Linked DNA regions of Homo sapiens: all the other regions are linked to region 2. The links come from fine-mapping of genetic effects on gene expression. A gene starts in region 2. Each other region holds a variant in brackets. All regions are shown on one strand. Distances are from middle to middle. Region 1 has its middle 670 kb from the start of LINC00839. Region 2 holds the start of LINC00839 (long intergenic non-protein coding RNA 839). Region 3 has its middle 100 kb from the start of LINC00839.

Evidence for each region. PIP is the estimated chance that this variant, and not a neighbour inherited with it, causes the effect.
Region 1: its variant is the best candidate, but not a certain one, in a credible set for the expression of LINC00839 in hypothalamus (GTEx, PIP 0.78).
Region 3: its variant is the best candidate, but not a certain one, in a credible set for the expression of LINC00839 in prefrontal cortex (BrainSeq, PIP 0.63).

The regions. Positions count from the first base shown.
Region 1 is chr10:41,804,323-41,808,570 of GRCh38, reverse strand. No RefSeq gene overlaps it. Among named protein-coding and RNA genes, the nearest start is that of LINC00839, 670 kb to the left of the region's middle. The variant G/A (reference allele first, on the strand shown) is at 1,945.
Region 2 is chr10:42,473,512-42,477,759 of GRCh38, reverse strand. It overlaps LINC00839 (long intergenic non-protein coding RNA 839), which reads right to left and starts at 2,269. Exons shown (of 5, transcript NR_026827.1): 1 at 1,880-2,269; 2 at 318-499.
Region 3 is chr10:42,372,517-42,376,764 of GRCh38, reverse strand. No RefSeq gene overlaps it. Among named protein-coding and RNA genes, the nearest start is that of LINC00839, 100 kb to the left of the region's middle. The variant T/AGTAT (reference allele first, on the strand shown) is at 1,593.

The DNA of each region.
Region 1 (4,248 bases), 670 kb after region 2:
TCTGCAATGTGGTATTTGTGAGCGCTTTGAGGACTATGGTGATAAAGGAAATATCGTCACATAAAAACTAGATAGAAGCTTTCTGAGAAACTTCTTTGTGATGTGTGTGCATTCATCTCACAGAGATGAACCATATTTTTTATTGAGGAGTTTGGAAACAGTTTGGAAACAGACCTTTTGTAGAATCTGTAAAGGGATATTTGTGAGTGCTTTGAGGCCTATGGTGAAAAAGGAAATATCATCACAAAATAACTAGAGAGAAGCTTTCTGAGAAACATCTTCATGATGTGTGCATTCATCTCACAGATTTGAACCATTCTTTTGATTGGGGAGTTTGAAAACAGTCTTTTTTTGTAGAATCTCCAAAAGGATATTTGGGAGTTCATTGAGGCCTGTGGTGAAAAAGGAGATATCTTCACATAAAAATTAGAAAGAAGCTTTCTGAGAAACCTCTTCATGATGGGTGCATTCGTCTCATGGAGTTGAACCTTTCTTTTCATTGAGCAATTTGGAAACTGTCTTTTTTAGAATCTGTAAAGGATTGTTTGGGAGCGCATTGCGGCCTACTGTAAAAAACGAAATATCTTCACATAAAAACTGGAATGAACCATTCTAAGAAAGTTCTGTATGATGAGTGCATTCATCTCACAGAGTTGAATCATTGTTTTGATAGAGTAGTTTGGAAACAGTCTTTTTGTAGAATCTGCAAATGGATATTTACAAACACGGTGAGGTCTATGGTGAAAAAGGAAATATCTTCACATAAAAACTAGAAAGAAGATTTCTGAGAAACTGCTTTGTGATGTGTGCATTCATCTCTCAGAGTTAAATATTTCTTTTTATTGAGGAGTTTGGAAACTCTGTTCTTCTAAAATCTACAAAGGGATATTTTTGTGCGCTTTGAGGCCTATGATGAAAATGTTAATTTCGTCACATAAAAAATAGACAGAAGCTTTCTGAGAAACTTCTTTGTGACGTGTGCATTCATCTCACAGAGATGAACCATTCTTTTTGTTGAGCAATTTCAAAACAGTCTTTTTGTAGTATCTGCAAAGGGATATTTGTGAGTGGTTAGGGGCACTGGTGAAAAAGGAAATACCTTCACATAAAAACTAGACAGAATTTTTCTGAGAAATTTCTTTGTGATGTGTGCATTCATCTCACAGAGTTGAACCTTTGTTTTGATTGAGCAGTTTAGAAACAGTCTTTTTTTCAGAATCTGCAAAGGGATATTTGGGAGCGTATTGAGGCATATGGTGAAAAAGGAAATATATCTTCCCATAAAAACTATAAAGAAGTTTTAGAGAAGCTGCTTTGTGAAGTGTGCATTCATCTCACAGAGATTAAATTTTCTGATGATTGAGTAGTTTGGAAACTCTGTTCTTCTAGAATCTGCAAAGGGATATTTGTGAGCACTTTGAGCCCTATGGTGAAAAAGGAAATATCTTCACATAAAAACTGCAAAGGAACTTTCTGAGAAACAGCTTTGTGATTTGCCCATTCATCTCACAGAGGTAAATGTTTCTTTTCATTGAGCAGTTTGGAAACTCTGCTCTTATAGAATCTGCAAAGAAATATTAGTCAGTGCTTTGAGACCTATGTTGAAAAATGAAATATCTTCACATAAATCTAGAGAGAAGCTTTCTGAGAAATTTCTTTGGATGTATGCATTCATCTCACAGAGTTGAACAATTCTTTTGACTGAGAAGTTTGGAAAGAGTGTTTTTTGCAGAATCTGAAAAGGGATATTTGGGAGCATGTCATGGCCTATGGCGAAAAAGGAAATATCTTCACATATAAATCAGAAAGAATCTTTCTGAGAAACTGCTTTGTGATGTTTGCATTCATCTCAAAGAGGTAAACGTTCCTTTTCATAGAGCACTTTGGAAACTCGAATCTTCCAGTATCGGCAAAGGGATACTTGTGAGTGCTTTGAGACCTATG[G/A]TGAAAAAGGAAATATATTCACATAAAAACAAGACAGAAGCTTTCTGAGAAACTGCTCTGTGATGTTCACCTTCATTTCACAGAGGTAAATGTTTATTTTCATTGAGCAGTTTGGAAATTTTGTTCTTCTAGAATCTGTAAAGGGACATTTTTCAGAGCTTTGAGACCTACGTTGAATAATGAAATATCTTCATATAAATCTAGACAGAATCTTACTGAGAAACTTCGTTGGATGTGTGCATTCATCTCACAGAGTTGAACCTTTCTTTCGATGGAGCGGTTTGGAAACAGTCTTTTGGTAGTATATGCAGAGGGATATTTCTGAACAGTTTAAGGCCTATGGTAAAAAAGGAAATATCTTCACATGAAAACTAGACAGAAGCATTCTCAGAAAATACTTTGTGATGTGTGAATTTATCTCACAAATGTAAACGTTTGTTTTTCTTTCTTTTTTTATTCCTTAAAATATTGTTCTATATATATATTATTTTGTTATTATACTTTTTTAAATTTTAGAGTACATGTGCACAACACGCAGGTTAGTTACATACGTATACATGTGCCATGCTGGTGTGCTGCACCCATTAACTCATCATTTAGCATTAGGTATATCTCCTAATGCTATCCCTCCACCCTCCCCTCACCCCACAACTGTCTCCAGTGTGTGATGTTCCCCTTCTTGTGTACATGTGTTCTCATTGTTCAATTCCCACCTATGAGCAAGAACATGCGGTGCTTGGTTTTTTGTCCTTGTGATAGTTTACTGAGAATGATGATTTCCGATTTCATCCATGTCCCTACAAAGGACATGAACTCACCATTTTTTAAGGCTGCATAGTATTCCATGGTGTATATGTGCCACATTTTCTTAATCCAGTCTATCATTGTTGGACATTTGGGTTGGTTCCAAGTCTTTGCAATTGTGAATAGAGCCGCAATAAACATACGTGTCCGTGTGTCTTTATAGCAGCATGATTTATAGTCCTTTGGGTATATACCCAGTAATGGGATGGCTGGGTCAAATGGTATTTCTAGTTCTAGATCCCTGAGGAGTCACCACAGTGACTTCCACAATGATAGAACTAGTTTACAGTCCCACCAACAGTGTAAAAGTGTACCTATTTCTCCACATCCTCTCCAGCACATGTTGTTTCCTGACTTTTTAATGATTGCCATTCTAACTGGTGTGAGATGGTATCTCATTGTGGTTTTGATTTCCATTTATCTGATGACCAGTGATGGTGAGCATCTTTTCATGTGTTTTTTGGCTGCATCCCATTCACAATTCCTTCAAAGAGAATAAAATACCCACGAATCCAACTTACAAGGAATGTGAAGGACTTCTTCAAGGAGAACTACAAACCACTGCTCAACGAAATAAAAGAGGATACAAACTAATAAAAGAACATTCCATGCTCATGAGTAGGAAGAATCAATATCATGAAAATGGCCAAAATGCCCAAGGTTGTTTATAGATTCAATGCCATCCCCATCAAGCTACCAATGACTTTCTTCACGGAATTGGAAAAAACTGCTTTAAAGTTCATATGGAACCAAAAAAGAGCCTGCATCACCAAGTCAATCCTAAGCCAAAAGAACAAAGCTGGAGGCATCATGCTACCTGACTTCAAACTATACTACAAGGCTACAGTAACCAAAACAACATGGTACTGGTACCACAACAGAGATATAGATCAATGGAACAGAACAGAGCCCTCAGAAATAACACCACATATCAAAAAACATATGATCTTTGACAAACCTGAGAAAAACAAGCAATGGGGAAAGGATTCCCTATTTAATAAATGGTGCTGGGAAAACTGGCCAGCCATATGTAGAAAGCTGAAACTGGATCCCTTCCTTACACCTTATATAAAAATTAATTGAAGATGGATTGAAGAACTACATGTTAGATGTAAAACCATAAAAACCCTAGAAGAAAACCTAGGCAATACCATTCAGGACATAGGCATGGGCAAGGACTTCATGTCTAAAACACCAAAAGCAATGGCAATAATATCCAAAATTGACAAATGGGATCTAGTTAAACTAAAAAGCTTCTGCACAGCAAAAGAAACTACCATCAGAGTGAACAGGCTACCTACAAAATGGGAGAAAATTTTCACAACCTATTCATCTGACAAAGGGCTAATATCCAGAATCTACAATGAACTCAAACAAAATTTACAAGAAAAAAAAAACTATTGAAAATTGAGTGAAGGATATGAACAGACACTTCTCAAAAGAAGACATTTATGCAGCCAAAAAACACATGAAAAAATGCTCACCATCACTGGCCATCAG
Region 2 (4,248 bases):
AAAATCAAGTGCAAAGAATACAGGATGAAGGCAATAATAAAGATAACAAACATCAATGAAATGGAAAAAAAAACATAACACAAATAAACCAAGGCTAAAAGTTGTTTTTATAAACAACATAGTTAATAAACCACTAGCAAAACTGATTAAGGAAAAAAGATTAAAGAACACAAGAGACCAGTATCAGAATCAAAACAACAGCCTACGTAACAGTATTATAACAAGATAATCAGAGAATTTTGTGAAATTCTCCCCGGGAGGCCGAGACTCCTGCTTGTCCTTCCTCCGCTGCCGGCACCCCAGACTCCCGGACTCACCCTCGGCTGGGTTGCCGTCTTCTCCTTTCAGAGATGGATGCCACAGGTTCCGGGCTTCTTGGGCTCTGGGAGGACGCGCAGCGGAAGGCGAGGTCGCTATATGAGGCCGCTCCAAAGTCGCCTCGCGCTGTTGCTGCGTCACTGCCTCCAGCCTCCAGCATCCAGGGAGAGTGCAGGCAAAACTGATTAAGGAAAAAAGATGAAAGAACACAAGTGACCAGTATCAGAATCAAAACAACAACTCTACATAACAGTATTATAACAAGATAATCAGAGAATTTTGTGAAATACATATGATCAAAAGTCTGACAACAGAGATCGCAACAGATGCTGAACCCAACTTACTAAAACTGGCACAAAAATAGCATAAAATAAGAACACTCCTATATATATTAAACAAAATTAACTAACTAATTTTAAAAATCCAACAAATCAACAATAATGCTCCACAAGGAAAACACCAGGATCAGACTTTGAAAATGTTCCAAATATTTAAGGAAGAAAAAAATATTGACACTGCTCACTCTCTCTCAAAGAGAAAGACGAAAGGGATGGTTTTTCAATTTGTTTCGAGAAGCCAGCATTACATTAATACACAATCTGATCAGACAATAAAAAACCCAGAAATAATAGATGTTCTGTTTCACAAACACAGATACAAATATTCTAAGAAAAATATTGTTACATGAACTAAACCAAGCAAGAAATTAAAACTGAAATTAAACAACAAAGACCAGAGTAGGAAACAACAACCTACAATAGAAATGAACCAATAAAGGACTAATCTCTAAAGTGTCTTTAAAAATGCTTCACATCAATGTAGGAAAAACACAAATGATCCAAGACAAAAAGAACACTATGAAGGAAAAAAAAGGGGGGTGCATGGGCGAATAAATATTTGCTAAGCCGTACTATGAAGAGGGTTATTTCCAGTTCCAGATGAGAGATACCCACAGGCAGCCCGGGGGGTGGGACCCCAGGGGACAGGACCCCCAGAAGGTGACAGAGATCCTGGCAGTGGGGGACCTGGGGCAGAAGGTGACCCCATCCTCTTCCCGGGCTGCCGCTCAAGGCTCCTGCCGCTCCCGGGCTCCAGCGCCCTCTCACCGGGTCCTGATCAGGGCTCCCTTTCTCACCCCGGGTCAGGCAGAAGGCCCCGGACCCCAGTCCCAAAAGAAACGGAGGCTGCAGGGCTTCCACGCAGGAGAGAAGGGGAGGGCTCCTCTCCGACCCGGGCTCCTTCAGCGCCCACCCCAGCGGACTCTGAGAGGGCGAGGAGGAGGTCGGGGGCTAGGTTCAAGCCGCACTGGGCCCCGGATTCAAGAAAGAAACGGGCTCCTGAGACGCCTGTGCATCAGAGGGGTCCTGGCTCGGCCTGGGATGGGGCTCGGGGAGAGTCAGACGATCTGCCAGGCTCCCAGCCTGAGGCCGCCCTCCCCGGCGCGCAACCCCCGCCCCCACCGCTGGGGCCCTCCTGCCTTTCCCGGCACGTCGCTCCCCGAGAGGCCGAGACTCCTGCCTGTCCTTCCTCTGCCGCCGGTATCCCAGACTCCCGGACTCACGCGCGGCTGGGTTGCCGTCTCCTCCTTTCAGGGCTGGACGCCACAGGTTCCAGGCTTCTTGGGTTCTGGGAGGAGGCGCAGCGGAAGGCGAGGTCGCTGCATGAGGCAGCTCCAAAGTCGCCTCGCCCTCGCGCTGTTGCTGCCTCACTGCCTCCAGCCTCCAGCATCCGGAGAGAGTGCAGGCAGGCGGCACCCAGTTCTCTTCCTTCTCCTCCTGCCCACGGCGGAGCAGCCTCCAGCATCCAGGGAGAGTGCAGGCACGTGGTGCCTGGCCCTCTTCTTTCTCCTCCTGCCCAGGGCGGAGCCATACAGACCACGCTGCCTGGAGCAGGGTGAAATGCGGAAAGCCCACGGAGCAACTATTTATAATGACTTATTTAACTAGATATCCTGTAAGGCATGTTCGGATTGGATGAGAGCCACTGTGCAAAACAACTCTGATTGGATAATATGACCCAATCAGGGCTGGCTGAAATGTTCCTTCTCGTCCTATCAGACTCAGGGTATAGATGCTGGGGTGGGGCAGGAGCCAGCGCCCCCACCGGAATTTGTGGCCACTTCGCCTTTGGCTTTGCCTCCTGCCATGCCCCGCAGGCCCGGAGAATGTGGCCCCAGACTGAAATGAGAAGAAGGTGGCCCCGCCGAGGGTGAGTCTGGGGAGGCTGGAGTGGGGGCTGTGAGGGGGTGCCCGGGCAGGAGTCTCGGCCTCCGCTGGGAGCAGCATATTCAGTGTGTAATGTGAATAACAGGCAAAATAGGTCTTAATTTTTTGTATTATTAGTGACAAAGACTTCCGGTCAACCGCAGGCCGTTAGGAGTTATGCTTTGGGGGAGTTGAGAGTTAAACTTGGATTTTTGACTGTGGGGGGTTAGCATCCATATCCCCCACATTGTTCAAGGGTCAGGTGTATTTTAGAGCACTGGCATGAATCACTTTGGGTCCCACTTGTTGAAAATAGGCATTGACATTTGGAGGCGCCTCCTTGTAGCGAGCAGGTACTACTGATCTCTCTCTTCCACGTACTGACCTTTCCCCAGCTTCTGTGGAACCCTGTTTCCTGGAGTTTACTTACATTCTTTAGTCAATTCTTCTCTAATTCTTCTGAAAGTGGATTTGGAGCAAGGGAAGAGAAACCTGCAGTCTTGGCTGTGTCCAGGTTTTGGTTCTGATTCTTGTGTGCGGTCCACATTCAGATTGGGGTCCTTAATGAAATCCATGGCTTCATCTCTCCTTGCATGCCAGCATCACCCAATCGTGTATAGTTAAACTCGAACTCCCTTTGCACCACAGACTCCCATCTCCAGGTGTTTAACAGGAATTGGATACTGAGCATGTGATATTTTTACCTAAACCTAAATACATCTTTTTTCCTTGTTTCCCTGTGTGCTTGTCCCCTGCCCAACCATCAGCACCACAAATCTAGACGCCTAAAATTCATCCACCTCCTTTGTAATGGCACCCAACCACCACATACAATCCTTTTAAATATCTCAGTTCTGTATTTGGAAAATTACACATTTTAACTGTCTTTTCACTTCATTGCCTTTCCATTACTCTAGGCCCTCATGGTTTCTTCACTGTTAGACTAATGAGCTATGAGTGTTTACCCTCCTAATCCTGCATACTCCTTAAAACCTCAGGCAGAAAATGGAAATTAAACTCGTGGGCATTCAAGGACACCCCCACGATTTTCAGGGTAAAGTTTTTATGGCTTAGCTTAATGCCCAACGACTTTCACATTCCTCTGTTGATAATTTCAATCTCTTGAAATTCTCTCAAACAAAAATAACTAACACTTGTTAACAACTTCGTGTTTCCAGGAAATACTTTAAGCAATTAAAGTCATAATTAAAGTAACATATGCAAAAACCCTATCAGTACTGCTTTTATACTTAAAGTTTTGTTTAAACGTAACCCTGTTTACTTGTTTATGTGTTGTCTATGGCTGCTCTCATGCTGCAGAGGTCGAGTAGAATATGGAATAGATGATGTGGACCACAGCTCCAAACATGTTTACTGTTTTGCCATTTTCAGGAAAAGTTGCTGGATGACTCCTAATCTAGTTGAATGTCTGTGTTACTAGTACAGGGAGATCCTTGCCAGCCAATGTCAGATAAACAAGTTGATTTTATGGACAATTTGTCTCATATATACAAGCACATTTCCAGTTTTTGTAACTGTTAACGATTTATTTTCCCACTTAGTTTGCTCCCTGTAACTTTGAGTGGCTCAACTATTCATCCTGTTTTGATTTCTTCATACCATTTACCCTCCTTCCAGATTATTTAATCAGGTGTTTTTATATTATACCTCAGCAGGGTTCTGAGCTTCTTGTTTGTTTACATGTCTCTATGACCCTCTTTGTTGT
Region 3 (4,248 bases), 100 kb after region 2:
ACTGCTCATTATATGATAGTTATAATGCATTAGCATGCTAAGAGACACTCACATCAGCACCATGACAGTTTACAAATGCCATGGCAACATCAGGAGGTTACCCTATATGGTCTAAAAACAGGAGGAACCTTCAGCTCCAGGAATTGCCCACTACTTTCCCAGGAAACTCATGAATAATTCACCCTTTGTTTAGCATATAATTAATAAATTATCATAAAATGGGCAACCAGAGCCCAATGCCACTGCTCTGCCTATGGAATAGCCATTCTTTATTCCTTTACTTTCCTAATAAACTTGCTTTCAATTTACTCTATGGATTTGCCTCTAATTCTTTCTTGCATGAGATCCAAGAACCCTCTTTTGGGGTCTGGATCATCTGGTAACAGTTTAAAGTTACCAAAAGATTGTTTCAAATTAAAAGCACAAAAAGGATGCAGATAAAACTAAAATATAAAAAGTTTAAGAAATTTAATTACAAGAAATTATAAAAATGTATGGAAATCTAGTGTGGTCAAAAGATGACAGATTTGATAGATTTATTTATAAGTTCTTATTTAAAAATAGCTTTAGTATTGATAAACTAATATAAAAGTAAACTTTGATTTTTGAACAAAATTGTATTGATATGTATTATTAATAAAAGAAAGCAAATATTTTTGTTCACCTTTTGAGTAAACGAAAAGGAGAGTAGAGAAAAGACAGACTTTATTTCACGCTGTTTTTCTCAAGTCTGTTTATTGGAAAACTGAGTCTCCTCTATCAAAGAGTAAAGTGTTTTGTTTTTTGAAAACATTTTTTGAGACAGGATCTTGCTCTGTCACCCAGGCTGGAGTGCAGTGACACAATCATGTCTCACTGCAGCCTTGACCTCCCAGGCTCAAACAATTATCTCGTCTCAGCCTCCTCTGTAACTGGGACCACAGACACATACCGCCGTGCCCAGCTAATTTATATATATATATAAAATACACACACATACACATATATATACACACCCATATATATATATTTATATGCATAGTAATATTTATATATTTATATATATTATGTTCATATATATTATATAATATTATATATTTTTATATATAGTAAAAAATATATATATTTTACTGATGGGGTTTTGTCAGGCTGGTCTTGAACTCCTGGGCTCAAACCAGGACAGCCAGATTTCCTTATTCAGCCTCCCAAAATGCTGGGATTACAGTCATAAGTTACCATGCTCAGCCCTAAATTATTTTAATTATTCCTTCGGCTACATGAATGACTGTTATTTTGTGATGACCTTTGATCATATGTTAGTCAAATGTTTTAAACCTTTGACATATTTGACAGGCTTCCCAACATCAAATTTGAGCTCCAAAATTGTCTTTTCTTTTACTCAACTTTGGGATGTTACAGAGGGACCCCGCAGCATCCAAAAAAGAGGTAAATGGGATTACAGAATATGTTAAACTACATGGAAATTATTGTCAAATGAATAATGATGTTTAACTTTCTTCAAGTTATATATATATACACATACATATACAATATATACGTATATACACATATACATATATACGTATATACACATATACAAACAAATATATATA[T/AGTAT]GTATACACATATACACATATATGTGTATATACGTATATACACATATATGTGTATATGTGTATACATACTTATATATATTTGTTTGTTTGTTTTTGTTTTGAGATGGAGTCTTGCTCTATTGCCCAGGCTGGAGTGCAGTGGCCCGATCTCAGCTCACTGCAACCTCCACCTCCTCAGTTCAAACGATTCTTCTGCCTCAGCCTCCTGAGTAGCTGGGACTGCAGGTGGGTGCCACCACACCTGGCTAATTTTTGTATTTTTAATAAAGATGGGGTTTCACCATGTTGGCCATGCTTGTGTCAAACCCCTGATATCGTGATACACCGCCTCAGCCTCCCAAAGTGCTGGGATTGCAGGAGTGAGCCATCATGCTAGGCCTCAAGTTATCTTTTAATAAATATGTTATTAATGTTTGTTCCAAAATTATGTGGAATTTCTAAAGTTCTAATATATCTGAATGTACACTATCAGTTATAATTATGGTTATTTTGATAAATTACTGTAGGCCACAGATATAACCAAATTTCCCTGACAGCTGTATCTTTTTTGTTTATTTGTTTGTTTTGAGTCTCTCTGTGTCTCCCAGGCTGGAATACAGTGGTGCGATCTCGGCTCACTGCAGCTTCTGCCTCCCGAGCTCAAGTGATTCTCCTGCCTCACCCTCCCAAGTAGCTGGGACCACAGGCGCCTATCACCATGCCCAGCTAATTTTTGTACTTTTAGTAGAGACGTGGTTTCACCATGTTGGCCAGGCTGGTTTTGAACTCCTGACCTCAAATGATCCACCCACCTCAGCCTCCCAAAGTGCTGGGATTACAGGCATAAGCCACTGCGCCCAGCCACCAACTGTGTATTTAAGTATGACCATTTTAAGTCATATCTATAGTTACTGACTTAATTCTGATGCAGTTTCTAAAAACTTCACAAGCACACAAAATATTAGAGTGTTATGTCTTTAAGGAGGTCATGAAAAGAGTGGTAAGAACCCAGACATGTTGCATACAGGTTTTAGATAACTTTAGGATTGTATCATTTGGACTGGGTAACAACCCTCAGAACTCTAATGAAGGGAATGACTTATAAAACTCCTAATCAAAGCGAGACAAAAATTAATTGAATACCAAGAAAATGTTTTGCCAGATTTTCATACTAAACTAGCCAGTGCTGAGATTGTTTAGATATGCAATTTGAATGAACTCTGTGGTTCAAGTCAAATTCCCTATGATAAGCCATCAGTTATTAGTGCTATGCATCTAAATTGGAGAAACAAACCTGGTATTTAAAAGGACATGAATCCACTGTTAAACATGAACTTGTGGAGAAGCTAGACAGCTACCTGGTTTTTCCTGAGTCTTCAAGGCTTTTATTATTAAAAGCTCTGCATTTCATGACTCATGGAAGAGAAAAAATAATCCAAATTAAATAAATTAAATGTGTGTGTGTGTGTCATGTATGTATGGTGATTGTTTTAAATTGCTAACATAGTTTATAACCATTGTTTGGTTTATCAAATCTATAATTCTAGGAAGACAATTAAAACTTCATGTATATTTTTGAAACCTGATGGGTCATTTAAACATTTGTACACAGGTTTTATTCAATTGTCATTTTCAATGCATGTTTTCTGGTTGTATAAAAACTTTCCCATGCAAGAAGGCTGATGTTACAACAGTAACTAAAATGTTATTAGAAAATATGTTTTTTCATTGGACATTTCTGATAAAACCTTCAATGATAGAAGTACTTATTTCACTGGAAAAGTTGTAAAACTGTAAAATGAATTATTACAGATGCTACAGCATTAAGCAAGGATAACTGAATTGACTGGATTACCTTGGTCAAATGTATTGCAGATTGATGACAATCTGATCCACTTAGTGTGGACAACATCAGTTGACCCTTAAGAAATACTCATTGGAAGGTCCATTCACTTAATAATAGAACTGCATGTATTTTCTGTTACTAAATTGTGATGTGGTTTAATGCAGCAAGGCTTTAATGCATTATGCCAAGGCATATTTTTTTCCAGGTAAAGAAAGCTTTTAATGGTCCACCAACTGAAGGACAATAATCCCATTATAATCTATAACCAAGATACTGAATATCTCCTTTTTATCCACACTGTGGCAGAACTTTGGGACCTTGAACCCCTGGGTTTATAATCTTACATTTCAGAAGGTCCTCTCCAGATTCTTGGAATTTTATTTAACTTAATCAATTAATTAATTTATTTTTGAGACAGAGTCTCGCTTTGTCGCCAGGCTGGAGTGCAATGGCGTGATCTCCCTGGTTCAAGTGATTCTCCTGCCTCAGCCTCCTGAGTAGCTGGGATTACAGGCACGCACCACCACGCCCAGCTAATTTTTGTATTTTTAGTAGAGAGGGGTTTCACAATGTTGGCCAGGATGGTCTTGATCTCCTGACCTCATGATCCGCCCACCTTGGCTTCCCAAAGTGCTGGGATTACAGGCATGAGCCACTAAGCCCTGCCAGAATTTTATATACATCAGAGACCTTTAGGTAAAGCTAACCAGATAAATTTGTCCTCAGAAGCAGATGACATTCTTAACACAGCATTTTCTCTAAGATTATGAATCAAAACTTCTCTGCTGTCATGAGACTCTTAGCTCTGTTTTTTCCTGCTTATGGCCCTAC